Regions from separate parts of the Homo sapiens genome. Here region 1 is linked to region 2. The links come from fine-mapping of genetic effects on gene expression. A gene starts in region 2. The other region holds a variant in brackets. All regions are shown on one strand. Distances are from middle to middle. Region 1 overlaps LOC101929710 (a long non-coding RNA gene). Region 2 holds the start of RIOK2 (RIO kinase 2).

The links.
Region 1: its variant is fine-mapped to the expression of RIOK2 in fibroblasts (GTEx, PIP 0.96).

The regions. Positions count from the first base shown.
Region 1 is chr5:96,345,995-96,363,079 of GRCh38, forward strand. All of the region lies in intron 3 of LOC101929710 (a long non-coding RNA gene), which reads left to right. It also overlaps a transcript of CAST not described here. Among named protein-coding and RNA genes, the nearest start is that of PCSK1, 79 kb to the right of the region's middle. The variant G/C (reference allele first, on the strand shown) is at 8,927.
Region 2 is chr5:97,174,122-97,191,206 of GRCh38, forward strand. RIOK2 (RIO kinase 2) reads right to left here and starts at 9,126. Exons shown (of 10, transcript NM_018343.3): 1 at 9,005-9,126; 2 at 4,934-5,072; 3 at 3,611-3,727; 4 at 2,995-3,170. The coding sequence starts at 9,070. It also overlaps the pseudogene RNU1-73P.

The DNA of each region.
Region 1 (17,085 bases), 830 kb before region 2:
GAAGGCAGGGATCACTGGGGACCATTTTAGAGGTTGCCACCATAAAGGCTGTCACAATGATCCAATTGAGAAATGATGGAGTTTGCATTTGGGTGGTGCCAGTAGGCTAACATCCTCCGATTGCAAAATATGAGTGACATTTAGAAGAATAAAATTGCTAAAACATGATGGTTGATTGGCTATGGTAGATAAAGGAATAAAAAATTTTGAAGAAGACTCCAGATTTCGGGCTTGAGCTCCTGAGTAGATGGCAGTACTATTCACTTATAATGATATTCTGCAGGAAGGCAGAGATCGTGACTGCTGTTTCGGACATATTAGCTTGCAAGTACCTGTGAGGCATCTAATTTGAATATCAGGCAGGTGGTTAGATATTCAGATTTTGAGCTTATAAGAAAGTTGTGGATCAGATAATGGATTTGGCTTTTGTCACTGTAGAGATTGTAATTGAAGCCTGTCTTAGGTCCAGTTTCTAGGAGCACAAATTTCCCAAATAACAAGTGAGTCAGTAGGAATGAAGTGAACAGACTCTTTCTAGTTCTACCCCTTGACTCCTGGATTCGTATATTCTACCACTGGATACACAGTACCACATAATGACCATTGGTAGAAGGTATATACTACATCCTAAAGCAACACCCAAACCTCATAATGTATCGTCTGTAAGCTGGCACCTCAGTTGTGACTTTAAGAAACTGTTCCAATCTCTATCAAAATAGCAATATCTGGGCTATACAGTATGTGGGAATTGGTGGGTTCCATACTCACGCACCTGTTCTGTGACCCCCATCTGTCATAAGTTGGCTTCCTGGTCTGATGCAATATTATTCAGGATTCCATGTCAGTAAATCAAGTACTCTGTGAGTCTTTGAATAGTAGGTGTGAATTGAGGCACTGCGGGCAGAAAGGCAAACCTATACCCAGAAAATATGCTATTCCTGGATAAGACAAATCACTTCTCTTTTCAAGGTAGAAAAGGAATTATTTGCAACTAAATGGTGTCTTCTTGAGAGATAGCATACTGGGCATCTTTCAGACGGGTTTCAGCAGTGGCAGTAACTAGATCAGCATTGGTGGGAGGGAGACCCTTCCACTGGGCTCACGCAGAGCCTCCATTTGAATATCCGTGACTATTCTTTGAGGAGGCCCAGTGTGCCAGCCCTGGTGTGGCCAGGGCTACCTGACATTTACCAGTCAAGTCATCCTGTCCATCTAGTTTTGTAGAGCCTCTTCTACAGTGAATACTCCCTAATGGACATTAATGCATGATACACAGTTTGCCCATTCCTATGGGTCCATGAACCTGTTTCTACTCCAGATCTCTTTGTTCCCAATCTTCCAATCCAAATAGTTCAATTCCAAATGATCCATTCTGCACTGCTCAGAAGTCCGTGCTTATCCTTCCTTCAAGCCACTCTCTTCACACAAAGTGGATGACCAGGTGCACTCCTGTTCAAAGCTGGGACCTCTGTCATGCAGCAGCAGTCTATTTTTGTTTGTACTAGCATACCAAGCTGGTCTATCTGTAAATCAGACCTTGGTTTTTTTCTCTCCTTCATCACTGGCGGGTCCTCAGTTATTATACAGAACCATTTTGGCATACCTGCATCTTGGGCTTTTGAATCTCTTCCTTAGAACTCTGGCAAGACTACTCTGGTACCTCCACCTCATTTAATGTGAGTCAGCCTTATCATCCCACACCAAGTTCCTAAGAGTCATCCCAGCAATGGAATAAGACCAGTTCTAAACCCCACAGGAAATCCTCTGAAGGGTCATTGGGAGCAAAAGTGAACTAAAACCAGGGAAGAGGCACAGAGACTGGTAAAGATGATTTGAAGAGAGCTGTGCAGCCACTAACCGTGTCTACTATGAAGCCATCAGGGTGGATGATGTGGAGAGAGGGTGAAGTGAGAAGAACACAGTAGTTCAGAGAGAGCCCTCCCTACAAAACCCCCAAACCCCAATAGTTAATGATTAATAGAGAAAGTATTGCCTACAAATAAGACAGAAATCGAGTTTCAAAAGATGATGCCAGACAATGTTTTAAGTAAAGGATTATTTCATTGAATTGGCAGATGCTGAGTCATTAAGTAAGCTGAAAAGTTCAAATGCATTCATCGGATGTAGTATCATGGAGGTCAATGATGACCTTGTCAAGGGCAGTATCAGTGGCATGGTGGGCCCAGGAGCCAGATTTAGAGTAAGAGTTGGAGGAAAGTAAATAAAGCCAAGTAAAGAAAGGTAACAGAAGAAGGAAGGGAAGAAATAGGATGATGGATGGAAAGGACTATAGGATTAAGGGAATATTTTATTCTACTCTTTGTTTTGTTTTTAAATTTGGAGAGACATGAATAATGCTAGTTTGAAGGAGGCCTGGGAGAGAGAGGGAGAGGGAGAGAGAGAGAGAGAGGGAGAGATAGAGAGATTTGTTGGTGCCTGATTCCTAAGGAGAAGACTCTAGGGAAAAAGATTCTAAGTCCAGATGAAGGAATTGCTTTTGATGGTAAGGGACAATCTCCATATTGCAACAGAAAGGTGGAGAAAATGATAGTTTTGGGATTTGATGGTGGGAAGTTGAGGCTATATAGTTCCAATCAGATGGTTTATTTTCCCCCAGTAGAAGACAGGGTCATTTGCTAAGAGTTCATGGGTTGGAGAAAGTAAGAGGATTGAGGATGGTGGACAGTGTCTGAAAGAAAGGACAGATGGTGTACAGAGGAGGCAGATGGCAATGGCAATGAGGAAGACAGAGACTGTAAGCCTGGACTCAGCAGGTCCAGGATTTACAGAGGCTGGAAAAATATTTGTCTGGAACATGAACCCACTTCCAGCCCTGAGATACCTGGGGAATTAGGAAATATGCCACTTCTATCAAAAGGGCTGTAACGGAAGTGGTGTTCCACATGGGAAGTTAGGGTTAATTATGAGCAGAAAGTGCAAGGAAGACATGTTTGAGAATGTAGAAGAATTGTTTCATAGAGCTGGGGTTTCTGAAGAGTAAAATGAAGATTTTGGGAGTTTGGGAAGGACAGGGATTAAGTCAGGAAGGAGAAAACATAGAACATTACACAAACCAACAAAATATTCTATAATTTTTTTTTTCTGGTCTCTCTCTCATTTTTCTTTTCAACCAACAAGGACACTATTTTTTTTTTTTTTTTTTGCTAGTTATCAGTATAAACTGTTCCCTATCCAAGGGAATTCAATTAGGACAATTTGCAAAATTGAACTAAAATAAATCTCAGCTGGAATTTAAGTTGACTGGTTGCTCTGGTCTAAATTGAGATACTGCTTTTAAGAATATATTCATGTTTGGGCATTAAGAGTTCACCATTTTCCTGTGATTATAATTAAATATTATTAACTTCTCTCTCCTTGACCTCTCTGTGGCATGATTATTTTGCTGTAATTTTAAAAAGATCTACTTTTAGCCTTTGGATGCAACACATGTAACTGTTCATCAAGGATCAACTGCAGGTATTTTTGTCTTTCATATGTATCAAGAGGCCTAATTGTTATCATGAGTCTATTAAAAACTCTTTGGCGTCAGCAAGACATTTACACTTATAAGGAAGAATAGATAAATTTGTATCTTTCAAAATAAGAGGATGTTAGCTGCTGAAAAAATTTCACTATTTTCAATTGCATACTTCATTAAACCTAAGAAGGTGCATTGGAAAATAAAGACTAAAAAGTAGATTGACCTGTAGTTGTTGAGGAAAGGGTGTGCTTAGGAACTGGACATTATTTTGTAAGTGACAGGGAGCCAGTAAACTCCTTTCTGTTTGTGTAACTTTCACCATCAGAACTGAGCTTTAGTAAAATAGCTGCTATGTGGAAGTTGGAATGGAGAGAGAGAGAAATTGAAGGCAAGAAGGAAAGGAATAAGCTAGTGCAGTGGCTTAGGTGAGAAATAGCATCAGTCTAATCTACACAAATGACCAGGAATAGAAACGTGGTGATGAAGTAAACTAGATAGATAACACACACTTGATTGACAATCGACTAAATTGCTTGATTTGTCAAATTATACTGGAAAGGTCATAATTCCTGATCTCATGTTTGTAAGCCAAAAAGTGTCTGCGACAGGTCTCAATCAATTTAGAAAGTTTATTTTGCCAAAGTTAATGATGTGTGCCCAGGAGGCAAGTCTGTGCCTTTCTCCAAAGATAATTTTAAGGGCTTCAGTATTTAAAGGGAAAAAGCAAATATTGGGGAAAGAGAAATAAATTGTTAGAAGGTGTGTGTAGATAAGAGACAAACAGTTGCACTCTTTTGAGTCTTTGATCAGCCTTTCACCAAATACACAATTTACGTATGAGAAGGAGGTAGAGGAATAGTCACTTATGCCTTCATCTGGCTCCATAAATCTGCATTTTACATCAGAGTAAGCAATCAGATATCCATTTATCTCAGGTGAGCAGAGGGAGGACAAAGTTCTGTCCTTTGTCCCCCACCTGTGAAGATAAGCTGTCAATTTACATTGTCAGGGTAAAATTCAACAGAATTGTTTTAGGGTGAAGATATTGGAGCCCACAAGGAATTTCCTAGTGGGCAAATTGTAAGGGACATATGTAGCTTTTTTTTCTTTGTGGCTATCTTATTTAGAAATAAAATAGGAGGCAGGTTTGCCTGACACAATTCCCAGCTTGACTTTTTTCTTTGGCTTAGTGATTTTGGGGTCCCGAGATTTATTTTCTTTTCACACATTTTTCACTATTCCACTCCAACTTCCTCCTTCTCCATGTGCCCCCAAATATCTTTCTGAGCCATAAAGAGTTAATGTTAAAAGGAACAGCACATTTCCTGACATCCATAACACTAGGGAAGAGGAATAGAACACAACTGCGTAATTATCATTGCACAATCACAACTGGAACTGATTGTTTCAGCTTGAAAATGGCTCTTGATTTCCCCTGGTGACATTTTCAGACCTTCATTATAAGTGAAGAACCTTGGTAACCATGTCATGCATTTTTCTGTGGTCTGAAACATATCCATTTAATGAGATGATGACCTTTATTTATCTACAAAATGTGAAACCATTAGCTGTTAACCAAACATACAGAGTGAGGTTGAGACAGTAACTTAGGACTTTGAATCTCAGAATTTAGATGTTTTTCTAAACAACACTTAGACAAAGTGAACAGGAATTTCTTCTATTACTAGGGATTTTGATATAAAAACACATAACATCATAACTCTGTAGTTGAGTGTGTATAATGGATTGTATAACTGTTTACTAATATTCAGTGCCCCACCTGTAAGAAAAATTTGTATTTATCTGACCCTTAGGTTTGGCCATGTGACTTGCTATGGCCAAAGAGATATAATGGCGGTGGCATGCGTGTCCTTTTCAGGTGGAAGTTTAAGAACCAGTGCATTTTTTGCCACACTGTCTCTACACATTGCTTCAGCAATGGGTAATGTAGATTGTGTCCACTCTCTCAGGCTAGGTCTCTGGGTGAGGACAAAGTGACAGAAATCAGAACACTCAACTGGCACATGAGGGAAATGTATTATAAGCAAGAAATAAACTTTGCTGCTTTAGGCCACAGAGATGTAGGGTTGTTTGTTATCCCAGTATAATTAAGCTATCTCAGTTTGTTAAGGGTATATGTCTACTGCACACCTGTATTACGTATCTGGAGTCATTTTTACAAGAAAGAAACACTGAGGGGAAAGGTAGTGTGGGTGTAATGAGAAAAAACTGTTAGAAAACAGTCTTTAAATTGTCACTAGAAATTGGTGAAAAAAACTCACTGTTCTTTTATGTTTAACTATATACTGCTATAAAAATGATCAAATATTTTGTTTTAAGTGCTTAGGGATAGAGAAGAAGGTGGAGAAATTGGGAGTGCAAAATAATAAATGTAGAAAGAAATGGAAAGTTCTCCAGATTTTCTAAAAGGATCACAGAAAAGTTAACTAACCGAAATGCCTTTAATTGCAGAGACCAAAATAACTGTTGGGTGGGTATTTTTGTGACTCCTTGTCTGGAATTAGCCTCTAGAGTGTACCTCACCATACAGTCACATCTTAGAGGACCATCCCAACACTTAGAATATTAGAGAGGTCTATCAGATCTGCCCATACTGTGATGGCCAAAGACTGGCTGGAACTCAAGAAAGTTCATGAAGAGCCTTTCTCCAAGGTGCTTAAGACTTTATCATGTTTATACATGTCTTTTTGGTCAGAAAGAATTTGTTTTGTGTCTCTTTTTGTGTTCTTCAAAGTGAAATGTGTAAAGTGAATTCAAAAGTCTGATGGGAAAACGTCTGGTGAGAGGATAAAATCAGGACCTTACTTTAGTGTTACTTTGAAGAAAGTAAGCAGGAGTTACTTCACCTGACTCATGAAATTTGCTTACGTTTCATTGCTTTGTATATGTGTTTGTGGAAGGGGCTCCAAGAAATTGAACATAACATAATTGACTAGCAATGTACCAGGCAACTGTTTCTAAGGGTTTCAGAAGGCTTTTTAAATTTTGTTGCTTGAGAATCTTGGCATCCATGATTCAGTGTGATAGGAGATCTGGTTTTAGCTTTTTCTCTATGTAGGAAGAATTTATTTCCACCAACAGGGGTAACACCATTCCTTTTAACACAATTATCAAAATAAAATAAATCTGCATAAAGGAACCAAAGTCTTGGTAAGACGTGCTTAGGTTTTCTGGACAGGTATGCAGTTAATATGGTTTGGTTCTCTGTCCCCACCAAGATCTCATCTCAAACTGTAATACCCACATGTCAGGGGAGGGACCTGGTGGGAGGTGATTGGATGATGGGAGTGGATTTTCTCCATATTGTTCTCTTAATAGTGAGTGAGTTCTCATGAGACCTGATGATTTAAAAGTGTGGCACTTCCCCCCTTGCTCTCTCTCCTGCTGCCATGTAAGATGTGCTTGCTTCCCCTTCGCCTTCTGCCATGATTGTAAGTTTCCTGAGGCCTCTCTAGTCATGCAGAACTGTGAGTCAATTAAACCTCTTTTCCTTATAAATTACCCAGTCTCAGGTAGTTCTTTACAGTAATGTGAAAATGGACTAATACAGCAGTCTTACATGAGCATGGTCAGGATTTGTGGACAATACCAGAAAGAGGCAAAAACTTACAAATACTGATTGATAAAAAAAAACAATACTCGAAGACTTATTTTTGAACAAGCACATAAACAAAAACCAAGACTTACTTTATCATTACCTATAAAAGCAGGTGAACAATAACCATACTTTTTAGATGGGGGATGTAGGAAAGTGAAGAAACAAACCCAAATTTTATCTTCAGTTTAGCTAGTACAGCACTCCAGACTTGTGTATATAATTTGCCTACTAATCACTTCCACTTAGATGTTTAAGTGGCATCCAAACTTATATGACCTAACTGCACTCTTGATTTCCTCCTTCCTTATCCTGCTGTGATGGTTAACTTTATGTGTCAACTTGACTGGGTTGCAGAGTGTCCAGATCGCTGGTAAAACATTGTTTCTGGGTGTGCACATGAGGGTGTTTTCAGAAGAGATTAGAAGTTGAATCTGTAGACTGAGTAAAGAGAATCCACCTTCACCAATGTGAGTGTGCATCATCCAGTCTGTTGAGGGCCTGAATAGAACAAAAGGACAGATGAAGGATAAATTCACTCTTGTCTGGAGCTGTGATTTTCATCTCCTTCTGCCCTTGGATAGCAGTGCTTCTGGCTCTCAGGCCTTTGACCTTTAGGACTTAACACTATTCTTCTCCTTCCCCTACCCAAGGCTTTCAGCCTCAGACTGAATAACATTACAAACTTTCCTGGTTCTTCAGCTTGCAAACAGCATGTGGTGAATCATCTCAACCTCCATAATTGCATGAGCCAATTCTCATAATAAATCCCCCCTTATCTATCTATCTGTCTCTATCTCGATCATCTGTATCTATATCTCCTGTTGCTTCTATTTCCCTGGGGAACCTTGACTAATACCTGCTTTTCATATAGTCTTCCACATCTCAGGATATTGAAACTTCATCCTTCCAGCTTCTCAGGCCAGAAACCTTGTAGTCATGTTTGATTCTCTTCTTTCTCTCATATTCCACATTCAATACATTGGTAAACTTGGGCAGCTTTACTTTAAATACATATCAAGAATCCGACCAATTACCACCACCTCCATTGTTATCACTAAACCATCACCAGTCTCCTGAACCAAGTGAGAGCCCCTGCTCATTTTCCCCTTCCCAATCTTATCCTCCTAGTGATTCTTTTCCACAAAACAGCCAACAGGATTTTTAAAAACTTTTAAAACATAATTTAGAAGTATTTTTTAAAAATAAAGTACACATATACATAAAGAGTCAAATAATTTCACAAGGTTGTTACTACAATAGCAGTCCCTTACCACCCTCACCACCCCATCTATGTAGCTTCTCAGAGGCAGCCATTTTGAACTCCTTCAACTGATTGGTATTGACCGCATTTCATTAAATCAATAATGCCTGAGATTCTATAATGCAACAAATGCTGCCAGTTAAACTATGATACACCATGGGTTGAGACGTATCCTGATTATGGAGATGTTGAAATGTAAAAAAAAAAATGTATGTCTCAGGATTGATGAAATATGGTATTTTCATTTCTTTGAATAACATGTTTATATATGTATCTGTATGTATATTTACACATGCTTATGTACCTATAGACAGTATATATTATGTATATTATATATAATATAAATTATGCAATGTAAATATAATATATAAGATGTTATGCATATTATTAATTTTATATATATTTACGTATATATTTCTTTGTTCTGGAGCTTAGGCAATAAATGTTAACTTCCCACTGTGAAAGATGAAGGTCTAGTATGCTTTTATTTATTTATTTATTTATTTTTAATCAAACAATTTACTTTTTATTTTTTCTTAATTTTTTAATATTGCATTTTCAATAT[G/C]AGAGTATCTTCAGACACTAAAATATATTTTGGTCAGTACAGATTTCAAAAATTTTACCTATGTCTCTGGATGCTTCTCTTTTCATTCTTTATAGTTCTTTTTTTTATATAGTTTAAGTTCAGGGATACATGTGCAGAACGTGCAGGTTTTTTACATAGGTATAAATGTGCCATGGTGGTTTGCTGCACCCATTAACTTGTCATCTAGGTTTTAAGCCCCGCATGCATTAGGTATTCCTCCTAATGCTATCCCTCCCCTAGCCCCCCACCCCCTGACAGGCCCCAGTGTGTGATGTTCCCCTCCCTGTGTCCATGTGTTCTCCTTGTTCAACTCCCACTTGTGAGTGAGAACATGCGGTGTTTGTTTTCTGTTCCTGTGTTAGTTTGCTGAGAATGATGGTTTCCAGCTTCATCCATGTCCCTGCAAAGGGGATGAACTCATCCTTTTTTATGTCTGCGTAGTATTCTGTGGTATATATTTGCCACATTTTCTTTATCCAGTCTATCATTAATGGCATTTGGGTTGGTTCCCAGTCTTTGCTATTGTGAACAGTGCTTCAATAAACATACGTGTGCATGTGTCTTTATAGTAGAATGATTTATAATCCTTTGGGTATATACCCAGTATTAGGATAGCTGGGTCAAATGGGATTTCTGGTTCTAGATCCTTAAGGAATCGCCACCCTGTCTTCCACAATAGTTGAAATAATTTACACTCCCACCAACAGTGTAAAAGCATTGCTATTTCTCCACGTCCTCTCCAGCATCTGTTGTTTCCTGACGTCTTTTATTTTTTTTTTGAGACGGCGTCTTGCTGTGTCACCAGTCTTGAGTGCAGTGACGTGATCTCAGCTCATTGCAACCTCTGCTTCCTGGGTTCAAGCGATTCTCCTGACCCAGCCTCCCGAGTAGCTGGGACTACAGGTGCACACCACCACGCCCAGCTAATTTTTGTATTTTTAGTATAGATGGGGTTTCACCATTTTGGCCAGGATGTTCTCGATCCCTTGACCTCATGATCTGCCCAGCTTGGCCTGCCAAAGTGCTGGGATTACAGGCATGAACCACTGCACCCGGCCTGTTTCCTGACTTTTTAATGATCGCCATTCTAACTGGCATGAGATGGTATCTCATTGTGTTTTTGATTCGCATTTCTTTAATGACCAGTGATTATTAGCTTTTTTAAATATGTTTGTTGGCCACATAATTGTCTTCTTTTGAGAAGTGTCTGTTCATATCCTTTGTCCACTTTTTGATGGGGTTATTTTATTCTTGTAAATTTGTTTAAGTTCCTTGTAGATTCTGGATATTAGCCCTTTGTCAGATGAATAGATTGCAAAAATTTTCTCTCATTCTGTAGGTTGCCTGTTCACTCTGAGGATAATTTCTTTTGCTGTGCGGAAGCTCTTTAGTTTGATTAGATCCCATTTGTCAATTTTGGCTTTTGTTGCAATTGCTTTAGGTGTTTCAGTCATGAAGTCTTTGCCCATGCCTGTGTCCTTAATGGTATTGCCCAGGTTTTATTTTAGGTTTTTATGGTTTTAGGTCTTACATTTAAGTCTTTAATCCATCTTGAGTTAATTTTTGCATAAGGTGTAAGGAAGGGGTCCAGTTTCAGTTTTCTGCATATGACTAGCTAGTTTTTTCAACACCATTTATTAAATAGGGAATCCTTTCCCCATTGCTTGTTTTTGTCAGGGTTGTCAAAGATCAGATGGTTGTAGATGTGTGGCATTATTTTTGAGGCCTCTGTTCTGTTCCATTGGTTATATATCTGTTTTGGTACCAGTACCATGCTGTTTTTATTACTGTAGCCTTGTAGTATAGTTTGAAGTCAGGTAGCGTGATGCCTCCAGCTTTGTTCTTTTTGCTTAGGATTGTCTTGGCTATGCAGGCTCTTTTTTGCTTCTATATGAAATTTAAAGTAATTTGGTCTAATTCTGTTTAGAAAGTCAATGGTAGCTTGATGTGGATAGCATTGAGTCTATAAATTACTGTGGGCAGTATGGCCATTTTCACAATATTGATTCTTCCTATCCTTGAGCATGAAATGTTTTTCCATTTGTTTGTGCCCTCTCTCATTTCCTTGAGCAGTGGTTTGTAATTCTCCTTGAAGAGGTCCTTCACATCCCTTGTAAGTTGCATTCCTAGGTATTTTATTCTCTTTGAGCAATTGTGAATGGGAGTTCACTCATGATCTGGCTCTCTGTTTGTCTATTATTGGTGTATAGGAATGCTTGTGATTTTTGCATATTGATTTTGTACCCTGAGACTTTGCTGAAGTTGCTTATCAGCGTAAGGAGATTTGGGGCTGAGACAATGGGGTTTTCTAAATATACAATCATGTCATCTGCAAACAGAGACAATTTGACTTCCTCTCTTCCTATTTGAATACCCTTTATTTCTTTCTCTTGCCCGATTGCCCTGGTCAGAACTTCCAATACTATGTTTAATAGAAGTGGTGGCAAAGGGCATCCTTGTCTTGTGCTGGTTTTCAATGGGAATGCTTCCAGGTTTTGCCCATTCAGTACGATATTGGCTGTGGGTTTGTCATAAATAGCTCTTATTATTTTGAGATACCTTCCAACGATACCTAGTTTATGAGAGTTTTTAGCATGAAAGGCTGTTGAATTTTGTCGAAGGTCTTTTCTGCATCTATTGAGATAATCATGTGGTTTTTGTCTTTGGTTCTGTTTATGTGATGGATTACATGTATTGATTTGCGTATGTTGAAGCAGCCTTGCATCCCAGGGATGAAGCCGAGTTGATTGTGGTGGATAAGCTTTTTGTCGTGCTGCTAGATTTGGTTTGCCAGTATTTTATTGAAATTTTCGCATTGATGTTCATCAGGGATATTGGCCTAAAATTCTCTTTTTTTGTTGTTTCTCAGCCAGGCTTTGGTATCAGGATGATGCTGGCCTCATATAATGAGTTAGATAGGAGTCTCTCTTTTGCTATTGTTTGGAATAGTTCCAGAAGGAATGGTACCAGCTCCTTTTTGTACCTCTGGTAGAATTCGGCTGTGAATCCATCTGGTCCTGAACTTTTTTTTGTTGGTAGGCTATTAATTACTGCCTCAATTTCAGAACTTGTTATTGGTCTATTCAGAGATTCAACTTCTCCTTGGTTTAGTCTTGGGAGGGTGTGTGTGTCCAGGAATTTATCCATTTCTTCTAGATTTTCTAGTTTATTTGCATAGAGGTGTTTATAGTATTCTCTGATGGTAGTTTATATTTCTGTGGGATCAGTGGTGATCTCCCCTCTATCATTTTTTATTGTGTCTATTTAATTCTTATCTCTTTTCTTCTTTATTAATCTGGCTGGTGGTCTATCTATTTTGTTAATCTTTTCAAAAAACCAGTTCCTGGATTCATTGATTTTTTGAAGGGTTTTTCGAGTCTCTATCTCCTTTAGTTCTGCTCTGATCTTAGTTATTTCTTGTCTTCTGCTAGCTTTTGAATTTGCTGGTTCTTGCTCCTTTAGTTATTTTAATTGTGATGTTAGGTTGTTGATTTTAGATCTTTCTTGCTTTCTCTTGTGGGCATTTAGTGCTATAAATTTCCCCCTAAACACTTCTTTAGCTGTGTCGCAGAGATTCTGGTACGTTGTGTTTTTGTTCTCATTGGTTTCAAAGAACTTATTTATTTCTGCCTTAATTTCATTATTTACCCAGTAGTCATTCAGGAGCAGGCTGTTCAGTTTCCATGTAGTCGTGTGGTTTTGCTTGAGTTTCTTAATCCTGAGTTCTAATTTGATTGCAGTGTGGTCTAAGACACTGTTTGTTATAATTTCCATTCTTTTGCATTGGCTGAGGAGTGTTTTACTTCTAATTATGTGGTCAATTTTAGAATAAGTATGATGTGGTGCTGACAAGAATATATATTCTGTTGATCTGTAGTGGAGCGTTCTGTAGATGTCTCTTAGGTCTACTTGGTCTGGAGATGAGTTCAAGTCCTGAACATCCTTTCCTTGTTAATTTTCTGTCTCGTTGATCTGTCTAGTATTGACAGTGGGGTGTTAAAGTCTCCCACTATTATTGTGTGGGAGCCTAAGTCTCTTTGTAGGTGTTTAAGAACTTGCTTTATGAATCTGGGTGCTCCTTTATTGAGTGCATATATATTTAGGATGGTTAGCTCTTCTTGTTGCATTGCTCCCTTTACATTGTGTAATGTTCTTCTTTGTCTTTTTTATCTTTGTTGGTTGAAAGTCTGTTTTATCAGAAACTAGGATTGCAACCCCTGCTTTTTCTTGCTTTCCATTTGCTTGGTAAATATTTCTCCATCCCTTTATCTTGAGCCTATGTGTGTCTTTGCATGTGAGATAGGTCTCCTGAATACAGCACACTGATGGGTCTTGACTCTTTTTCCAATTTGCCAGTCTGTCTTTTAATTGGGACATTTAGCCCATTTACATTTAAGGTTAATATTGTTACGTGTGAATTTGATCTTGTCATTATGATGCTAGCTGGTTATTTTGCCCATTAGTTGATGCAGTTTCTTCATAGTGTCAATGGTCTTTACAATTTGGTATGTTTTTGCAGTGGCTGGTACCTGTTTTTCCTTTCCATATTTAGTGCTTCTTTCAGGAGCTCTTGTAAGGCAGGCCTGGTGGTGACAAAATCTCTCAGCATTTGCTTGTCTGTAAAGGACTTTATTTTTCCTTTGCTTGTGAAACTTAGTATGACTGGATTTAAAATTCTGGGTTGAAAATTCTTTTCTTTAAGAATGTTGAATATTGGCCCCCATTCTATTCTGGCTTGTAGGGTTTCTGCAGAGAGATTCACTGTTAGGCTGATGGGCTTCCCTTTGTGGGTAACCTGACCTTTCTCTCTGTCTGCCCTTAACATTTTTTCCTTCATTTCCACCTTTGTGAATCTGAAGATTATGTGTCTTGGGGTTGCTCATCTCGAAGAGTAACTTTGTGGCGTTCTCTGTATTTTCTGAGTTTGACTATTGGCCTGTCTTGCCCGGTTGGGGAAGTTCTCCTGGATAATATCCTGAAGGGTGTCTTCCAACTTGGTTCCATTCTCCCCGTCACTTTCAGGTACACCAATCAAACATAGGTTTGGTCTTTTCACATAGTCCCATGTTTATTGGAGGCTTTGTTCATTCCTTTTCATTCTTTTTTCTATAACCTTGTCTTCACACTTAATTTCATTTAGCTGATCTTCAATCTCTGATATCCTTTCTTCTGCTTGATCGCTTCAGCTATTGATAGTTATGTATGCTTCACAGAGTTCTCATGCTATGTTTTTAAGCATCATCAAGTCATTTATGTTCTTGTCTAAACTGGTTTTTGTAGTTAGAAATTCCTCTAACATTTTTTCAAGGTTCTTAGCCTCCTTGCATTGGGTTAGAACATGCTCCTTTAGCTCAGAGGAGTTTGTTATTACCCACCTTCTGAAGCCTACTTCTGTCAGTTTGTCAAACTCATTCTCCACCAGTTTGTTCCCTTCCTGGTGAGTAGTTGTGATCCCTCAGAGAAGAAGCATTCTGGTTTTTGAATTTTCAGCCATTTTGCACTGGTTTTCCTCATCTTCGTGGATTTATCTACCTTTGGTCTTTGATGTTGATGACCTTTGGATGGGGTTTTGGTGTGGACGTCCTTTTTGTTGATGTGGATGCTATTCCTTTCTGTTTGTTAGTTTTCCTCCTGACGGTCAGGCTCCTCTGCTGCAGGTCTGCTGCAGTTTGCTGGATGTCCATTCCAGATCCTGTTTGCCTGGGTATCACCAGCAGAGGCTGGAGAACAGCAGAGATTGCTGCCTGTTCCTTCCTCTGGAAGCTTCATCCCAGAGGGGCAACCGCAAGATGCCAGCTGGAGCTCTCCTCTATGAGGTGTCTGTCAACCCCTGCTGGGTGGTATCTCCAAGTCAGGAGGCACAGGGGTCAGGGAGCCACTTGGGGAAGCAGTCTGTCCCTTAGCAGAGCTCAAGAGCTGTGCTGGGAGATCCACTGCTCTCTTCAGAGTCAGCAGGCAGGAATGTTTAAGTCTGCTGAAACTGCACCCACAGCTGCCCCTTCCCCCAGGTGCTGTGTCCCAGCCTAATGGGAGTTTTATCTATAAGCCCCTGACTGGGATTGCTGCCTTTTTTTCAGAGATGCCCTGCCCAGAGAGGAGGAATCTAGAGAGGCAGTCTGGCTACAGTGGCTTTGCTGAACTGCGGTGGGCTCTGCCACTCAGAATTCCTGGCAGCTTTGTTTACACTCTTAGGGGAAAACTGCCTACTCAAGCCTCAGTAATGGTGGATGCCCCTCTTCCCACCAAGCTCGAGTGTCCCAGGTCAACATCAGACTGCTCTGCTGGCAGCAAGAATTTCAAGCCAGTGGATCTTAGCTTGCTGGGCTCTGCGGGGGTGGGGTCCGCTGAACTAGACCAGTTGGTTCCCTGGTTTCGGCCCCCTTTCCAGGGGAGTGAACAGTTCTGTTTCGCTGGCATTCCAGGCACCACTGGGGTATGAAAAAAAAACTCCTGCAGCTAGCTCAGTGTCTGCCCAAATGGCTGCCCAGTTTTGTGCTTGAAACCCAGGGACCTGGTGGTGTAGGTACCCAAGGGAATCTCCTGGACTGCAGGTTGTGAAGTCCGTGGGAAAAGCATAGTATCTGGGCTGGAATGCACTGTTCCTCACGGCATGGTCCCTCCTGGCTTCCCTTGGCTAGGGGAGGGAGTTCCCTGACCCCTTGCACTTCCCATGTGAGACGATGCCCCACCCTGCTTCAGCTCACCTTCCGTGGGCTGCACCCACTGTCTAACCAGTCCTATTGAGGTGACCCAGGTACCTCAGTTGGAAATGTGGAAATCATCTGCCTTCTAGGTTGATCTCGGTGGGAGCTGCTGACAGGAGCGATTTGTCTTCAGTCATTTTGCCAGCCACACCGCTCTAGTATGCTTTTTTTTTTTTTTTTGCTTCTTTTCTTTTTTTTTTTAGTTATACTTTAAGTTCTAGGGTACATGTGCACAACGTGCAGGTTCATTACATATGTATACATGTGCCATGTTGGTGTGCTGCACCCATTAACTTGTCATTTACATTAGGTATATCTCCTAATGCTATCCCTCCCCTTCCCCACACCCCACGACAGGCCCCGGTGTGTGATGTTCCCCTTCCTGTGTCCAGGTGTTCTCACTGTTCAATTCCCACCTATGGGTGAGAACATGCGGTGTTTGGTTTTCTGTCCTTGCGATAGTTTGCTGAGAATGATGGTTTCCAGCTTCATCCATGTCCCTACAAAGGACATGAACTCATCCTTTTTTATGGCTGCATAGTATTCCATGGTGTATATGTGCCACATTTTCTTAATCCAGTCTATCATTGATGGACATTTGGGTTGGTTCCAAGTCTTTGCTATTGTGAACAGTGCCGCAATAAACATATGTGTGCATGTGTCTTTATAGCAGCATGATTTATAATCCTTTGGGTATATCCCCAGTAATGGGATGGCTGGGTCAAATGGTATTTCTAATTCTAGATCCTTGAGGAATCACCACACTGTCTTCCACAATGGTTGAACTAGTTTACAGTCCCACCAACAGTGTAAAAGTGTTCCTATTTCTCCACATCCTCTCCAGCACCTGTTGTTTCCTGACTTTTGAATGATTGCCATTCTAACTGGTGTGAGATGGTATCTCATTGTGGTTTTGATTTGCATTTCTCTGATGGCCAGTGATGATGAGCATTTTTTCATGTGTCTGTTGGCTGCATAAATGTCTTCTTTTCAGAGGTGTCTGTTCATATACTTTACCCACTTTTTGATGGGGTTGTTTGTTTTTCTCTTGTAAATTATCTTGAGTTCTTTGTGGATTCTGGATATTAGCCCTTTGTCAGATGAGTAGATTGCAAAAATTGTCTCCCATTCTGTAGGTTGCCTGTTCACTCTGATGGTAGTTTCTTTTGCTGTGCAGAAGCTCTTTAGTTTAATTAGATCCCATTTGTCAATTTTGGCTTTTGTTGCCATTGCTTTTGGTGTTTTAGTCATGAAGTCCTTGCCCATGCCTGTGTCCTGAATGGTATTGCTAAGGTTTTCTTCTAGGGTTTTTATGATTTCAGGTCTAACATTTAAGTCTTTAATCCATATTGAATTAATTTTTGTATAAGGTGTAAGGAAGGGATCCAGTTTCAGCTTTCTACATATGGCTAGCCAGTTTTCCCAGCACCATTT
Region 2 (17,085 bases):
AAAATATATACATTGGGATGGGCATGGAGTCTCACGTCTGTAACCCCAGCAATTTGGGAGGCCGAGGCGGGTGGATCAGTTGAGGTCAGGAGTTCGACACCAGCCTGCCAGCATGGTGAAACCCCATCTCTACTAAAAATACAAAAAAATTAGCCAGGCGTGGTGGCACATGCCTGTAGTCCCAGCTACCTGGGAGGCTGAGGCAGGAGAATCGCGTGAACCCGGGAGGCAGAGGTTGCAGTGAGTTGATATCGTGCCACTGCATTCTAGCCTGGGTGATAGAGCAAGACTACACCTCAAAAAAAGTTTTTTTTTACATTGGCTGTAAATTTTCTTTTCAGTTTGTAAATATAAACTTTTCCTGGTTTTCAAAACTCTTTAATCCACCTGTACAGTCCTAGTTCTCCCAATATTCTCTCCAATACACACCAAGAAACGCAGTCAGGACAGTCACCTCAGTGTCACCTAAACACATAGGACTCACATAGATTCATGTCATTGCCCATACCACTTCTCTGCCAAAATGCACTGTCTTAGGGTCAAATAATATCCAAGCTTCATGGCTCCACTCAGCTCCACTCACTACCTGAAACCTCCTCCATCAACTATTCTATCACTTACTGAAGTTTCTCTAAATTCAGTATATAATTAAAAAAAAAATTGTTCTTAGACTTGCAGTGGTGGCTCACGCTTATAACCCCGGTACTTTGGGAGGCCGAGGTGGGTGAATCTCTTGAGGCCAGGGGTTTGAGAGCAGCCTGGGCAACACAGCAAGGTCCTGTCTCTACAAAGCAGGCATGGTAGCACATGCCTGTGATCCTAGATACTTGGGAGGCTGAGGTGGGAGGATGGCTTGAGCCCAGGAGGTAGGGGCTGCAGTGAGCCGTGATCGTGCCACTGCACTCCAGCCTGGGTGACAGAGTGAGACCTTGTCTTGAAAATAAATAAATAAATAAATAAATAAATAAAAGGTTCTGTTTCATGTGTTATCTTCTCAACTTTAAGACACAGATCGTACTGGTTATTTCTTTGGCATCCACTCCTTCACCCTACACTACCCCAGCAATTAATTTCAAAAGGTTGTCTATTGCTTACCTTCTGTGAACAAGAACCAAACCACTTCCCACTTCCCAGATATTTTTCTTTGCTTTGTTTTTAAATACTTTTTTTCAGTGTAGACCATTTTGAGCATACCTAGACAGATCAATAGCACGTGATAAACTTAAAGATTGTGAATATTTGTCTAGAACTTGTGCTATCGCCTAGACCTCATGCTATAGCCCAATCTTTATCTTCTTGTTCCTCTCTTATGAATAATCAATACATTAAGGAGTGCATTTATGTGCAACCAGATTCCATTCCTATACCTTCAATATAAATATCCTGAAAAACACCTACTACCCTTTTGGGAAAATGTGTAAATGATCCCTACCAAGCTGCTCATTTACTGACTGAATATTACAAGATACAAACTATTAGTATAAGAAGTACATTGACATGTATGGTATCAGTATTACTAATTTATGCTGCCTTAAGAAATCTCCCATGATTAGTGAAAATTTAAGTATATAACCCACTCAAAGAACAAGCTGAATCCTCAAGAAACAGGTGTTCACACACTGTAGCAATCTTTAATTCACATTGTTTTGAAAAATGAAGATAAACTATGACAAATCCTACTGGCAGGATTATAAAAACACAATATTATCTTTTGTTTAACTTAGTTATTGTTGGATATATTTAATTTGGATATTATTATATTTAACAATCTATGCTGAACTTAATTTTGAAGGCAAAGTTAAAAATAAAGGATTTTTTTTTTTAATGTCAGGGGACAGTATAAATGTAGTCCGCCAGTGCCACAAAATATGCAGTCAAGTTCCAATATTTGGGGAAACTGCAGGGGTCAGCACACCTGAAGTGCAATGAATAGGCCTAACCCTGAGAAAACCGTCTTTGAGATTTTGACATTTCATCTGCCAGGTTAAGCATTTTTTTCTATTTGTATAAATGTATGAGGTACATGTAACATTTTGTTAAGTATATATGAGAAGTCATCAAGTCAGGGTATTTAGTGTGTTCATCTCCTGAGTACAATACATTTTGTTTACTATAGTCACCCTACTCTGCTATCAAACATTGAATGTATTCCTTCTAATTGTATGTTTGTATCCTTTAACCCACTTCTCTTCATCCTTACCTCTTAAAAACTAAAGATTTTTACCATTTTTGTTTTTTGAGACAGAGTCTTGCTCTGTTGCCCAGGCTTGAGTGCAGTGGCACAATCTTCACTCACTGCAACCTCTGCTTCCTGGGTTCAAGTGATTTTCCTGCTTCAGTCTCCCAAGTAGCTGGGATTACAGGTGGCCACCACCATCCCCGGCTAATTCTTGTATTTTTAGTAGGGATGGGGTTTCACCTTGTTGGTCAGGCTGGGCTCCTTACCTCAAGTAATCCGCCCACCTCGGCTTCCCAAAGTGCTGGTATTATAGGCATGAACCACTGCACCCAGCCAATTTTTACCATTTTTAATATACATATAAATCTATAAATGTTTGTTCCTTTATGTGAAACAAAAAACTAGCCAACTTATCTGAGACACTAAGGTTTCTACAGATGATAATTACCTGGTGTTTTCAATTAGAAACAGACATATGTATAGTTACATATATTGAATAGATATATATACATCCACACATACATATTTGTGAGGTAACAGCATCATTAATTACTTTTGGCTCTTTCATCTTGTCAGCATTACAGAATGTGTTGCCCTTATGCATTAGTAACAATTTAAAATACCTTAACGTAGAAGGAAATCACTTAAAAGAGCCCAAATAATCAACAGAGTTATTTAAGATTGAGTCTGTCTGTAGGAATTGAGTCTAAGGTTAGAGAGATGTGGGGACAACAGAATCACACTTGTCATTAAGGCCTTTGAGACACATGTATTATTTGGCTAAAAAATGCATGACTACAAAATAAAATAAATACCTTCATATAGGCAAATTCCTTCATGGCAGAGAGACGAGATAAATATAGCCATGACACATTGTGCCTATGTTTATGATAATCGCGTTTGTTTTTCAAATTTCGAAACGAGGTTCTTCCTAGTCTGTGAAGCTTTAATGCAAATTGTTGTCCTTCTTCATTTGCAACAATGTAAATATCTAGAGACAAAATTTCAAAAACAACCATTATTACACGTTTATTCCAATCAGTTAAAACAATTCTAACTTTCTCTAATTTTATTTGTATCAAAAATGTCATTTTTCCTAATAAAGATTGAGTATCCCTCCTTATCCAAAACCTTCGGACCAGAAGTGTTTTGAATTTTGGATTCTGGTATATTTGCACATAAATAATGATATATCTTGGGAGTTATTAGAAGAAAATTAATTCCTGGTATAAATGAATTTTCAGTGATAGACGTTCAGAGAAAATAATAACCTACTAATTAAGGACACCTTCTGATTTGTACTGCTTCCAATCAACTTTCCAACTTACTGTTTAGTTAGAAAAAAGGGAAAATTAAAAGAGGAAAGGTTTCTGAAGGGAAAACATAAACTAAAGCAAAGAAAATACTTTGCACAGTACTATTAGCACTTACCTGATTCTTTGCCAACACCCATCTGGTTTCCAACAGACTCAACTACTTGCCTAGAAGAAAGTGTTTTCAAAGCTAGGTAATCATATCCTGCATTTGTCAACCGATAGCCCTGGACAGCTAGACAAAAATCAAAGCATAAAGACCATATTTCAGTTACATTGTACAACCAAGTCACGTAAGTTCAAGTCATAAGAAAGATTTAACAATAAAGTCTTCATTGGAAAAAGATAAACTGCCCAGGCTCACAAGCTTCCAATTTCTTCCTATAATTTGCATTTCTTCTCCAGTGTACTGATAATCAAAATGTGACCTACAGACAGGTCTGTAAGTGTTTGTGACAAGATAAAAGGAGGAATTTAAGTTCAATTTGTATATCAATTTGACCTAGAATTTATGTCTGTTTTTGTATATCTGTTATCCATTTCATTTTTCTAGTAATTATTTTTTTGTATTTTATAAAAGTAAGGATCTGTGATAGGTTGGAAAAAACTAATCCTTCACCACAGATGGTTTCAGAAGTAATGATCTAGGGTATGACTACTGATTGTATTTTCCAAAGATGGTAGCCACAATAGCTTTATCCTATATGCTCTTCTGCAGTACCTACATGCTCTTCATGCTCTTCTACAGTACCTACATGCTCTTCTGCAGTACCTACATGCTCTTCATGCTCTTCTACAGTACCTACATGCTTTTCTGCAGTACCTACTTGCTCTTCTGCAGTACCTACATGCTCTTCTGCAGTACCTACATGCTCTTCTGCAGTGCTCTACCTGCTCTTCTGCAGTACTCTACCTGCTCTTATGCAGTACCTACGTGCTCTTCTGCAGTACCTACGTGCTCTTCTGTACTCTACATGCTCTTCTGCAGTACTCTATGTGCTCTTCTGCAGTACCTACGTGCTCTTCTGTACTCTACATGCTCTTCTGCAGTACTCTACCTGCTCTTCTGCAGTACTCTACCTGCTCTTCTGCAGTACCTACGTGCTCTTCTGCAGTACCTACGTGCTCTTCTGCAGTACTCTACATGCTCTTCTGCAGTACTCTACATGCTCTTCTGCAGTACTCTACGTGCTCTTCTGCAGTACCTACATGCTCTTCTGCAGTACCTACATGTTCTTACTACTATTCTTTTTTCACCTCCTTTGATCTGGGTGTGCCCTGTGATTATTTTGACTAATAGGATATGGCCGAAGTGTGTTCTGTCAGTTCTTCGTCTAATGCTTTACTAGTCTGGCAACTTCTACTTCTTGACTTTTGGAACACTTGCTCTGGTGGAAACCAATTACCTGAAAAATCACAAATGGTGCCTCAAAATACTTACTTTTGGTACGCTCCCAAGCTATGAGTTTATGTTTCACTAATTCTCTTAAAACTTTATTACAGCCACCATGTTTAAGGCTGGCTATAGAAGCAATCAAACTGCCGGGAACAATTTCATGGTTCTTCATGCCCATTTCAACCTGAAATTAAAGGAATCATTATATAATCATAATCAACACAAAGCCTTGTCTATCAAAACCCTGCGAAATTAACTTCTCCTTGAAGCTTTCCTGACTATGCAGTTCTCCAACTAATTCTGAGACATAATCACTTCCGTCTCTTGAAAATATTTTTAATTGCAATTTGAAATCTAATCATTGATATTTGTATTGGCTTTCCATTTCAAGAGTAGGAACTGTGAGTGCTAGACATACTGATGACATTTGGTCAATGCTAAAATACTTGATGACACCTAAACATTTGTCTTTAAAAACTACAGATATGCCAGATATTTATTAAGCAGGTATTTAATGAGAAAGTACTACATGTAGGCATCGTAGAGGATATATATATATATATGAATGATAGACTGGATAAAGAAAATGTGGCACATATACACCATGGAATACTATGCAGCCATAAAAAAGGATGAGTTCATGCCTTTTGCAGGGACATGGGTGAAGCTGGAAACCATCATTCTCAGAAAACTAACACAAGAGCAGAAAACCAAACACCACATTTTCTCACTCATAAGTGGGAGTTGAACAGTAAGAATACGTGGACACAGAAAGGGGAACATCACACACTGGGGCCTGTCGGGGGGTGGGGGGCTAGGGGAGGGATAGCATTAGGAGAAATACCTAATGTAGATGGGATGGGTTGATGGGTACAGCAAACCACTATAGCATGTGTATACCTATGTAACAAACCTGCACGTTCTGCACATGTACCCCAGAACTTAAAAGTATTTTATATATATATATAATATATATATATAAAATATATATATATTATATATATATAATATATATATAATATATATATTATATATATATTTTTAAATTTATTCCTCAGAGGTAAAAAGCACATATATATATATCTCTATCCTACATGCTCTTCTGCATGTGTATATGTATATATATATATATGTATATATATATATATATATGTGCTTTTTACCTCTGAGAAATTTTTATCTCATGATGGAAATTTTAAAAAATGGTATACATCTAAGTTTATTAGAAGTTAAGAAGTGATAAGTGCTTAAAAAGGTAGCTCAGGGCAGAATAAGAATACTTCTAGCTGAGGGATCAGTTCCAAGGAAGATGCAAAACTAGAGACTGACTTTTAAAAGATGTGGGCATACAGAGAAAACAGACAAGGGGATATTAGTGAAAGAAAAAGATTTGAAAATGGCACATATGCAAGAAAGTACTGACCACAGAGAATAGCTGAGTACAGTAGCAGCTCAGATGGGATAGCATATAGAATTCATGCAAACGCGGCTGGAAGATACTTCTAGGATAGAGAAGGCATTAAAATGTAGACCAAATACTTTTATATTTTATCCTGATGAGAGCAGGAAGCTCTTGAAGATGTTTAGGCGTGGGAGACACACGAACAGGGTTATTTTAAGGACATTAATGTACCAGGAATATGCAAATTGGCTTAGAGATGGCAAAATCTGAGGGGGTACTCCGGAGAACTAAGACAGAAGTCCAGCTCAGAGGAAAGAGCCACCAGAACAGGGTAAGTGGTAGTGGTACTGGAAGGAAGGAATAAAAATCTTTAGGAAGTATTATGGGAGAGCTTGGCAATTAGATGTGGAAGGGTAAAGGGAACGGAAAGCCACAATTGGAAGTGATGAGGAAAAGCAAGTTTTAAGATTTTATTATTTTTTTTTTTTATAGAGCTTGGGAAAAGAGAAAGGGGGTAGAAAAAAATTGAATTTGGTTTGAGCACTGAGAGTCAAATAAAAATGTTTAAAGGAAAACTGGAGGCCAGGTGCAGTGGCTCACACCTGTAATCCCAGCACTTTGGGAGGCCAAGGTGGGTGGATCACGAGGTCAAGAGATCGAGACCATTCTGGCCAACATGGTGAAACCCCATCTCTACTAAAAATACAAAAATTAGCTGGGCGTGGTGGTGTGCGCCTATAGTCCCAGCTACTTGGGAGGCTGAGGCAGGAGAATCGCTTGAACCCAGAAGGTGAAGGTTGCAGTGAGCTGAGATTGTGCCACTGCACTCCAGCCTGGCAACAGAATAAGACTCCGTCTCAAAAAAAAAAAAAAAAGAAAGAGAGAAAATTAAATAGGAAAGGGGCCTATATTTAGGAATGAAGTTATAATTAGAAGGAAAAATTGTCAATTATTTTATAGAAGTGAGAGTTGAAGATGTGAAGTGGATGCTATCACTGAGCAGGAGATAATGGAAGAAAAGGAATGTTTGGGAGCAGAATTCTGGGGCAAGTTCATATTGAAAGCTAAGGGCAGCTAGTCAAACAATGATTATTGATATAGGAGGAGCCAAAGAAGTAAAAGGGAAGAGAGGCCCAAGAAAGGGTACCAACACTGGTGAGATTCAACTGAGACCGGAATGTCATATTTAATGACTAAGTCATTTCTTGGTGAACTTTACAAATAATTTAAATATTGCAGCGCCAATGTTTTGGAAGATAAATCTGGCATCATTTTGATGTCTCACCAAAACCTTAACTTTTAAATTTAACTTATTTTCCATGCTTTGTCTCTGCCTCCCCCGTCCTCTAACACTCTTACTTTTGACCCCTACTTCTGTCAGAGACACTAAGGAATGAGTGTGCTGAGAAAGCAGGAAAGGAAGGTATCTTTCCGAAGTGATAGTAGGTTTTCATAGAGAAAGTCCAGCTGATTAGAAGAATCTACATGAGAGGCAAAGTAAACATTGTCTTCCAAATTTCACACTGATTTTGCATTTGATAGTTTAATACTTAAGCGCTATTTAAGATTAATTTTAAAAATCCAAAACTTGAAGCCTTAACATAATGCAAGAACCAGTGTGACTCACATCGCATATCCTATTACATAATTACACAATATAGGTAGTCCTTATCATGGGGTTCACTCCTTACCAAAAGATAACGGCTCCTAAATAAATGTACAAATGTCTTGATCTATATATTAATTTCTGTGCCATAAGACTGAGGCCATAAAATCAGATTTTGTTACTCCCCTGATTAAAAACATTTAGTGGTTACCCCCACATTCTTTACCAAACCTCCAAGGCTCTGTAGTACATAATTTCTCACCTTTTCCGCTACATCTCCAACCATTAGTGTGCATCTCACTTTGCTCCAGCCACATTACATTGGCCTTTCCTCTCTTCAAAGACTTTTCTGTCTCAAGGCCTTTGCACTTACTACTGCTGTTTCCTCTGCCTCCAACTCTTTCCAAGGACTTCACTGGGCTGTCTCTTTCTCACACAGCTCCTATTATTCCCCCATTCATTCTTTCATTTAGTGAATATTTATTGATTGTCTACCAAAGGCCAATAACTTGTGCCCCTCCTCTCCACCAGATACATATACTTTCTATGCCATTATCCTTTATCATTTTCATAGCATTTATCCATTATCCTATTTTTCGTTTACTTGATGATCTGTGTCTCTCTCTCCACTTGTCTGTTTGAACAAGTGAACCTCCTAATGTTGCTACTAAAAAACCGACAAATATGTGTTGACTGAATGAATCAGAAAGACTGCTATGCGACTGAGTCTGTTAGTAGGGAAGTCAATATTATCAAATCTCGGGGGGGGGGGGGGGCTTAAACCTTTCACAGCTGGTCGGAAGCTCAGGATCAGAGAAGTTTCCAGGCCACAGAGATGCAAGCGTTTCTCTTCAGCGCAAAGCGAATAGCAGCAGAAAAGAAAACAATTATTAGAAGACGGGACCTTTGCTCTATCTGGGGGAAGGTAAGCTCCCAAACAAAACCTTTTTAAAAATCCGACTTTCTGAATGCTCTCTTCTCCATTCCCAGCTTCTGCCACGTCCCGGGTCCCAGAGTGTGCCTGCTCAGATCCCAGAAAACTTGCAGGAACAGGAAGAGGTCACACAGTGTTAAGGGGAAGGGAGAACAGGAACGGCGGGTTTCTTACCGCGGTCAAGACCCTGAAGTCATCTCGGCTCATGTAACGCAACTTGGCCACATTCACTTTCCCCATGGCGGCCCCAGTCCGAACCCAGATGCCTCTCCGACGACAGCCGCAAAGCGTAAGGCAGGTCGTTATTCCAGCCTCTAAGCGCTTTACAGCGCCAGATGGCTCGCGCACGCGCTGCGTCTTAGTATAGGTCCTTGTTAATAGTTAGAAGTGCTGTTCTCATTGATATAGGAAAATAAAACTACTTGTATGTCTTATGAAACACATAGTATGTAACAAGTGAACGTTTTATTTTTGTGTAATTTTTGCGTTGTGACTGAGTTGGCGGAGTGTAGATATTCTCTACAATGTGCCTTTTTTTTTCCATATCTGTCAGGACTTGCTGCCTCAATGACACGTTCCGCCTCAGAGAGCAAAGTGGTTACTTAATGGGAGGAGCAAATTTTTCCCGCAAACAACTTCTACTCTAGGCAAAGTGACTTCCAACAAGACAGGGGTAAAAGAACCTGAGCTAGAGTCCAGACAACCAAATCTGTTAAAGGTAAAGTGGACTGTAATCACACAAGCACGCCCTCTACTCCTAATTGCGCCTGCTCCGGCAGCTCCGGAGGGCGTGGTTAATGGAACTCATGCGCTTGCTCAGTACTTCTCTTAGGTTGGTCTAGGAGGCTTCGAAGTGCGCCTGCGCTGGTTGGGGTGGGAGTTTAAGGTGACACGTGGAGAGCGCGGCGGACGTCCTTACCTCCAGAGGAAGTGGGGATTTTGATAGTTCGGGCTGACCTACGCGGGTAGGACTTCGAGGGCCCAGGAGCGATTTAAGGATTTTAGAATAGTTACCCATACTGGCTCTGCAACTCCTCGATATTCAAGCCTTTGTCTGCTTTTTACTTGAATGCAGCATGTCTTTGATTAACCATCTTCAACCAATGAACATCTCCATTTAAACGGAATTTTTCTTTCTGTACTTACATAAGAAGGCATAGAAATGAATTTTTTTTTTATTTTTGAGACAGAGCCCGGCTCTGTCACCCAGACTGAAGTACAGGGGCGCGATCTTGGCTCACTGCAACCTCTGCCCTCTAGGTTCAAGGGATTCTTCTCCCTCAGCCTCCTAAGTAGCTGGGATTATAGGCTCACACCACCACGCCCTGCTAATATTTTTATTTTTAGTAGAGATGGGGTTTCGCCCTGTTGACCAGACTGGTTTCAAACTCCTGGCCTCAGGTGATCCGCCCCCCTCAGTCTCCCAAAGTGCTGGGATTACAGGCATAAGCCACCGCGCCTGGGCGAAAAGTTTTTAAAAAAACCAAGTGACTAACTTTATTTGTACAAATTTATGGGGTACGTGAGAAATTTTGTTACAAGTATTTAGGGTGTCTGTCATCCAAATACAATATATTTTTGTGTAACTATAGTTACCCTACTCTACTATCAAGCAGTGAATATATTCCTTCTATCTGACTCCATGTTTGTAACCTTTAACCTACTCTCTTCATCCTGTTCCCACTCCCCTCATCTTTCCCAGTCTGTTATCTGTCTTTCCACTCTCTACCTTAATGTGATCAAATTTTTTAGCTTCCACATATAAGTAAGAGCGTGTGATATTTGTCTTTTTGTTCCTGGCTTATTTCCCTTAAGATAATGACCTCCAGCTCCATCCACGTTACTGCAAATGGCAAGATTTCATTTTTTATGTCTGAATAGTACTCCATTGTGTATATATACCACATTTTCTTTATCCATTCATCTGTTGATGGACACTTAGGTTGATTCCATAGCTTTGCTATTGTGAATAGTGCTGCGATAAACATGCAAGTGTAGGTATCCCTTTGATATACTGATTTCTTTCCTCTGGGTAGATACCCAATAGTGGGATTGCTGGATTGAATAATTCTATTTTTAATTTTTTGAGAAATCTCCATATACTTTTCCACAGTGGCTGTACTAATTTACATTCTCATCAACAGTGTATAAGAGTTCTCTTTTCTCCGCATCTTCACCAACATCCATTATTTTTTGTCTTTTTAACAGTAGCCATTTGGACTGGGGTAAGATAATATCTCATTATGGCTTTGATTTTCATTTCTTATATACTTAGTGATGTTGAGCAATTTTTCATGTACCTGTTGGCCATTTGTATGCAAATAACTAACTTCTAGAGCAAGAATGGAATGGGAAACAAGCCATTTATGTTTCTACTCCGAATCCAGCACTTTAGCAAATGTTCCTAATCTATTATGGTGTAATTCTTACATTATTTCTCAACATTGCCTCAGACAGCCACCATTAACTGAGTGGAATTGACTAGAATTGCTATTGGTGTTCTGAAGTATGCCTTACGGTTAATCACATTAAGTCCAAATCTCTTATATTTGGAATATTACTTTTAAAATAAAATCATTTTAATAATCAGAACTTTGAAGAGTAAAAGTAAGTGATTGAAGTGCAGTTTGGTATTCTGTTCTACTCCCTCATACCATGCTTAGTGATGAGTAAAACAAAACATGTACAGTATTATTCGTTAATGCATTCACTATTCATCAAACATATATGCCATACTTTTTTACTAGGTCCTGGGGAATCAATCTCAACCCTCATACCTGTGTTGGAGGGTGAAGAGTAGAAAAATAGAGAGTAGTGTGACACAGATGTGCAAAAGGTGTATCATGTTGGTGTTTCCTCCTCCCTTACCTCCCCTGCCCTGACCCTGTCCTTACAAGTTGCAGAGAACCTTAACTGTCTACAGATCAAAGTGCACGTTTAGACTGGCATTCAGGATTGTCAACAATCTGTATCACCATCTTCAAGCAGTTTGTACTCTTGTCTAATTGAACTACTTTTGTTTTCCCTGTATAACTCCCTTAAATTTCTTTTTTACTAAGTTTTCCCTTCACCTGTAATACTTTTCCCTCCACCTGTAATATTACCTCTTCCCTACTGTTTTTCTTCTTTTTCAATCACAATATATGTAAATCTTATCTACCATTAAAATTCTATTCACCACATAAGGTTTTTCTTTATTATTCCTATTTATCTCTATATTAATTTTCTCTTGCTGCTGTTAACATATTACCGCAAACTTTGACGACTTAAAACAATAGAACTTTATTCTCTTACAGTTCAGGACGCTGGAAATAAGAGATTATTTTTACTGGGTCAAAATCAACGTGTTGACAGGACCATGTTCCCCCAAGAGGGGCTCTAGTGGAGAATTTGTTCCTTGCCTTTTGCAGCTCCTACTGGGATTTGGTGACTGCTGGCATTCTTTTGGCTTGTGGCACATCACTCCAGTCTCTGTCTCCATGCTTACGTTATTGCCTTCTCTACTCGTGAGTGTGTGTGTTTCCTTCTGTCTCTGTCTTATACAAATACATGTAATTGCACTTAGGATCCACTCAGACCCTTAATAACATCTGTAAAATATTTTTTTCCATATAGGATAAATTCTTAGGTTCTAGAAATTAGTATGTGGATATTTTTGGATGGGTCATCATTCAACCTCTCACACTCTCAAAGGGAAGTAAGTGCTCCTCCCTCTAATCTTCTGTAGCCTGTTGTCTTTAATGATTCTGGCCACTTTTTAACCTCTCCTGCTTGCCCATAGGTTAGGTTAATTACAGAAAAAGTTGAATGTGGAGACTGAATTTAAAGCATAGATTCAAGAAAAAGAAATTTTGTATATTTACATTTAAGATATTATACTAGCTAAAACTCAGAAAAAATTATGATAGATTTTACTGCATATGGGTGGTAGCGCCATACATTTGCATATAAGGGATATCAGTGGTGGAAAAAGACACAGAATGGAAGATAGGGATGTGTGGAGTTTATGGCAAGTTTCAATGGGAGACTCACAACACAAACTTGTTGAATTCAGAAGCATGTTCAGAATACACAGCAGAGATTTATATACCTTTTGAAAAATAGCTCCTGGCGTGCTGCAGAGCCCTGGGAGAGATGTGTTGCTTGGCGCTGAGATATCACACAGGTGACATCGGGGTCACAGTTGTTCAGTAATGATCTATCCTAAGATGAAAGTGGTACGTGCAGGAGTGAACACAAGCAGGACCAGAGGGTGCAAGCTGCATGAGCAGGTGGACTGGACTCTTTCATGTCATCCACTACCATTGCCCAAGTGCCTTTCCCTCAACTTATATCTCCATGGGTGATACCTTTGATCAGTTGGTGAAGCAAAAAAAGCCCACATTAGATTCACGGATGGGTCAGTTTGATTTTGTAGTTGAACTACAGCTCTATTTGTGTGTCCTTGAAAGAGAAGTGATCAGGGAATATCCTCCTGATGGGCAGATCTTTGGAAGGTGCACTTCATCATTCACTTTGTGTAGTAAGAGAAATAGCCCCAGGTTAAAATATACATGGACTCATGGGGAAGGGTGAATGGCTTGGCTGGTTGGAAAGGGACTTGGAAGAAGAATTAGTAGATTGGGAACAAGGATGTCTGAGGTAGAGGGGTATGAGAAAGGATATATGGGTGTGCACAAGAAATGTGAGTAAAGGAACTGGTCCGTGGCCTGGGGGTTGGGGACCCCTGCTTTCGAGTCAAAAGCCTCGAGGCCTCCTTTGGTACTACACCACAGTTAAACTTTTTCCTTTGCCTAATCCTACTTCTTTCCCTGCTCTTCTTAAAGAGTTGATCATAAGAGCACTCTGTATTAATATTCCCACATGCCACTCTGCAGTACAGAGTCGGCTTCGTGTGAAAGTCCACCTTCACCAGTGTTTTTCTGGGCCTTCAGCATAGTGATAATGGGACCCTTCCATAAAGGTGGGATAGGCAAAATAAGACCTCCAACTGAGAGATATTATCATTGGCTTAACTCTGACACTAACTAGTTTTTGATCTTGGGTATGCCTTTAATTTCACTCATTCAAACAAGTTTTTATTTTGAATGTTTACAATGCATTTTGGTAGACAAAACTCAGTTCCTTTACTCAAGAAGTTTATAGGTCTAATGGGTCATAGGTTCTTTATTTGTATTATGAAGGGGATAGACTTGAATTAGTGTTTCTAAACCTCTTGTTCATTTAAGTCCCCATCACAGACCCCGTCACCTTCATTTCTTTGTGGTTGAGAATCACTCTCTTCTGTGTATCCTTAAGGACCAAGAATATTTGGTTAACTGAATATCCAAAACAATCTTGATCAGTAAATCTTGTCCCTTACCCCCCTTCCCACCTGAATCCACAAAGCTCATTGTATCATTCTTATGGCTTTACATCATCATAGCGTAGCTCCCACTTAATAAGTGAGAACATATGATGTTAGGTTTTCTATTCCTGAGTTACTTCACATAGATGGAATCTCCAATTCCATCCAGGTTGCTGCAAATGCTATTATTTAGTTCCTTTTTATGGCTGAGTAGTATTCCATGGTCTATGTGTATGTATGTGTGTGTGTGTGTGTGTGTGTGTGTATCACAATTTTTTTTTTTTTTGAGATGGAGTCTCGTTCTGTTGCCGAGGCTGGAGTGCAGTGGTGCAATCTCGGCTCACTGCAAGCTCCGCCTCCCGGGTTCACGCCATTCTCCTGCTTCAGCCTCCCGAGTAGCTGGGACTACAGGCGTCTGCCACCATGCCTGGCTAATTTTTTGTATTTTTAGTAGAGATGGGGTTTCACCATGTTAGCCAGGATGGTCTAGATCTCCTGACCTCATGATCTGCCCACCTTGGCCTCCCAAAATAACTGGGATTACAGGCATGAGCCACCGTACCCGGCCAACATATTTTCTTTATCCACTTGTTGATTTATAGACATTTGGGTTGGTTCTATATTTTTGCAACTGCAAATTGTGCTGCTATAAACATATGTGTGCAAGTATCCTTTTGTATAATCACTTCTTTTCCTCTGGGATTGCTGGATCAAATGGTTGATCTACTTTTAGTTCTTTAAAAAAATCTTCATGCAGCTTTCCATAGTGGTTGTACTAGTTTGCATTCCTACCAGCAGTGTAAAAGTGTTCTCTTTTCACCACAACCATGCCAACATCTATTATTTTTTGATTTTTGGGTTATGGCCATTCTTGCAGGAATAAGGTGGTATCATATCATGGTTTTGATTTGCATTTCCCTGATCATTGGTGATGTTAAGCATTTTTTCATATGTTTGTTGGCCATTTGTATATCTTCTTTTGAGAATTGTCTATTCATGTCCTTAGCCCACTTTTTGATGGGATTGTTTATTTTTTTCTTGCTAGTTTGTTTAAGTCAATTCCTTGTAGATTCTGGATATTAGTCCTTTGTCAGATGCATAGTTTGCAAAGATTTTCTCCCACTTTGTGGGCTGTTTTTTCTTCCTAGTTTGTTTAAGTCAGTTCCTTGTAGATTCTGTATATTAGTCCTTTGTCAAATGCATAGTTTGCAAAGATTTTCTCCCACTTTGTGGGCTGTTTACTCTGCTGATTATTTCTTTTGCTGTGCAGAAACTTTTTAGTTTTATTAAATTCCATCTGTTTATTTTTGTTTCTGTTGCATTTGCTTTTAGGTTCTTTGTCATTAAGTCTTTGCCTGAGCCAATGTCTAGAAGGGTTTTTCTGATGTTATCTTCTAGGATTTTTATGATTTAGGTCTTAGATTTAAGTCTTTTATCTATTTTGTGTTGATTTTGTATAAAGGGGAGATGAGGATCCAGTTTCATTCTTCTACATGTGGCTTGCCAATTATCCCAGCACCATTTGTTGAATAGAGCGTCCTTTCCCCACTTTATGTTTTTGTTTGCTTTGTCAAAGATTGGTTGGCTGTATTTGGCTTTATGTCTGGGTTCTCTTTTCTGTTTCATTGGTCTACATGCCTATTTTTATACCAGTGCCATGCTGAGTTGGTGACTATAGCCTTATAGTATAGTTTGAAGTTGGGTAATGTGATGCCTCTCTACTTTCCAGGAATTTATCCATGTCTTTTAGGTTTTCTAGTTTATGCATGTAAAGGTGTTCACAGTAGCCTTGAATGATCTTTTGTATTTATATAGTGTCAGTTGTAATATCTCCTGTTTTGTTCCTTATTGAGCTTATTTGTATTTTCTCTCCTCTTTTCTTGGTTAATCTTGCTAATCGTCTATCAATTTTATTTATCTTTTCAAAGAACCAGTTTTTTGTCTTATTTATCTTTTTTTTTTTTTTTTTTGAGATAGAGTCTCGCTCTGTCGCCCAGGCTGGAGTGCAGTGGCATGATCTCGGCTCACTGAAAGCTCTGCCTCTGGGGTTCATGCCATTCTCCTGCCTCAGCCTCCCAAGTAGCTGGCACTACAGGCACCTGCCACCACACCTGGCTAATTTTTTGTATTTTTAGTAGAGACGGGGTTTCACTGTGTTAGCCAGGATGGTCTCAATCTCCTGACCTCCTGATTCATCCACCTCGGCCTCCCAAAGTGCTGGGATTACAGGCGTGAGCCACCGCGCCCAGCCTTATTTATCTTTTGTATTGTTTTATTTTTGTTTCAATTTCATTTAGTTCAGCTCTGATCTCAGCTATTTCCTTTCTTCTGCTGGGTTTGGGTTTGGTTTGTTCTTGTTTCTCTAGTTCCTTGAAGTGTGACCTTAGATTGCCTATTTGTGCTCTTTCAGACTTTTCGATGTTGGCATTCAGTGCTATGAAGTTTCCTCTTAGCACTGCTTTTGGTGTATCCCAGGTGTTTTGATAGGTTATGTCACTGCTATCATTCAGCTCAAAGGATTTTAAAATTTCCATCTTGATTTCATTGTTGACCCAGTGATCATTCAGGAGTAGGTTATTTAATTTCCATGTATTTGCATGCTTGTGAGGGTTCCTTTTGGAGTTGATTTCCAATTTTATTCCACTAGAGTCTGAGGGAATACTTGATCTAGTTTTGATTTTCTAAATTTATTGAGACTTGTTTTGTGGCCTATTATATGGTCTTTCTTGGAGAATGTTCCATGTGCTGATGAATAGAATGTATATTCTGCAGTTGTTGGGTAGAATGTTCTATAAATATCTGTTAAGTCCATTTTGTTTTAGGATATAGTTTAAGTCTGTATTTCTTTTTTGACTTTCTGTCTTGATGGCCTGTCTAGTGCTGTCAGTGGAGTACTGAAATCCTCCAC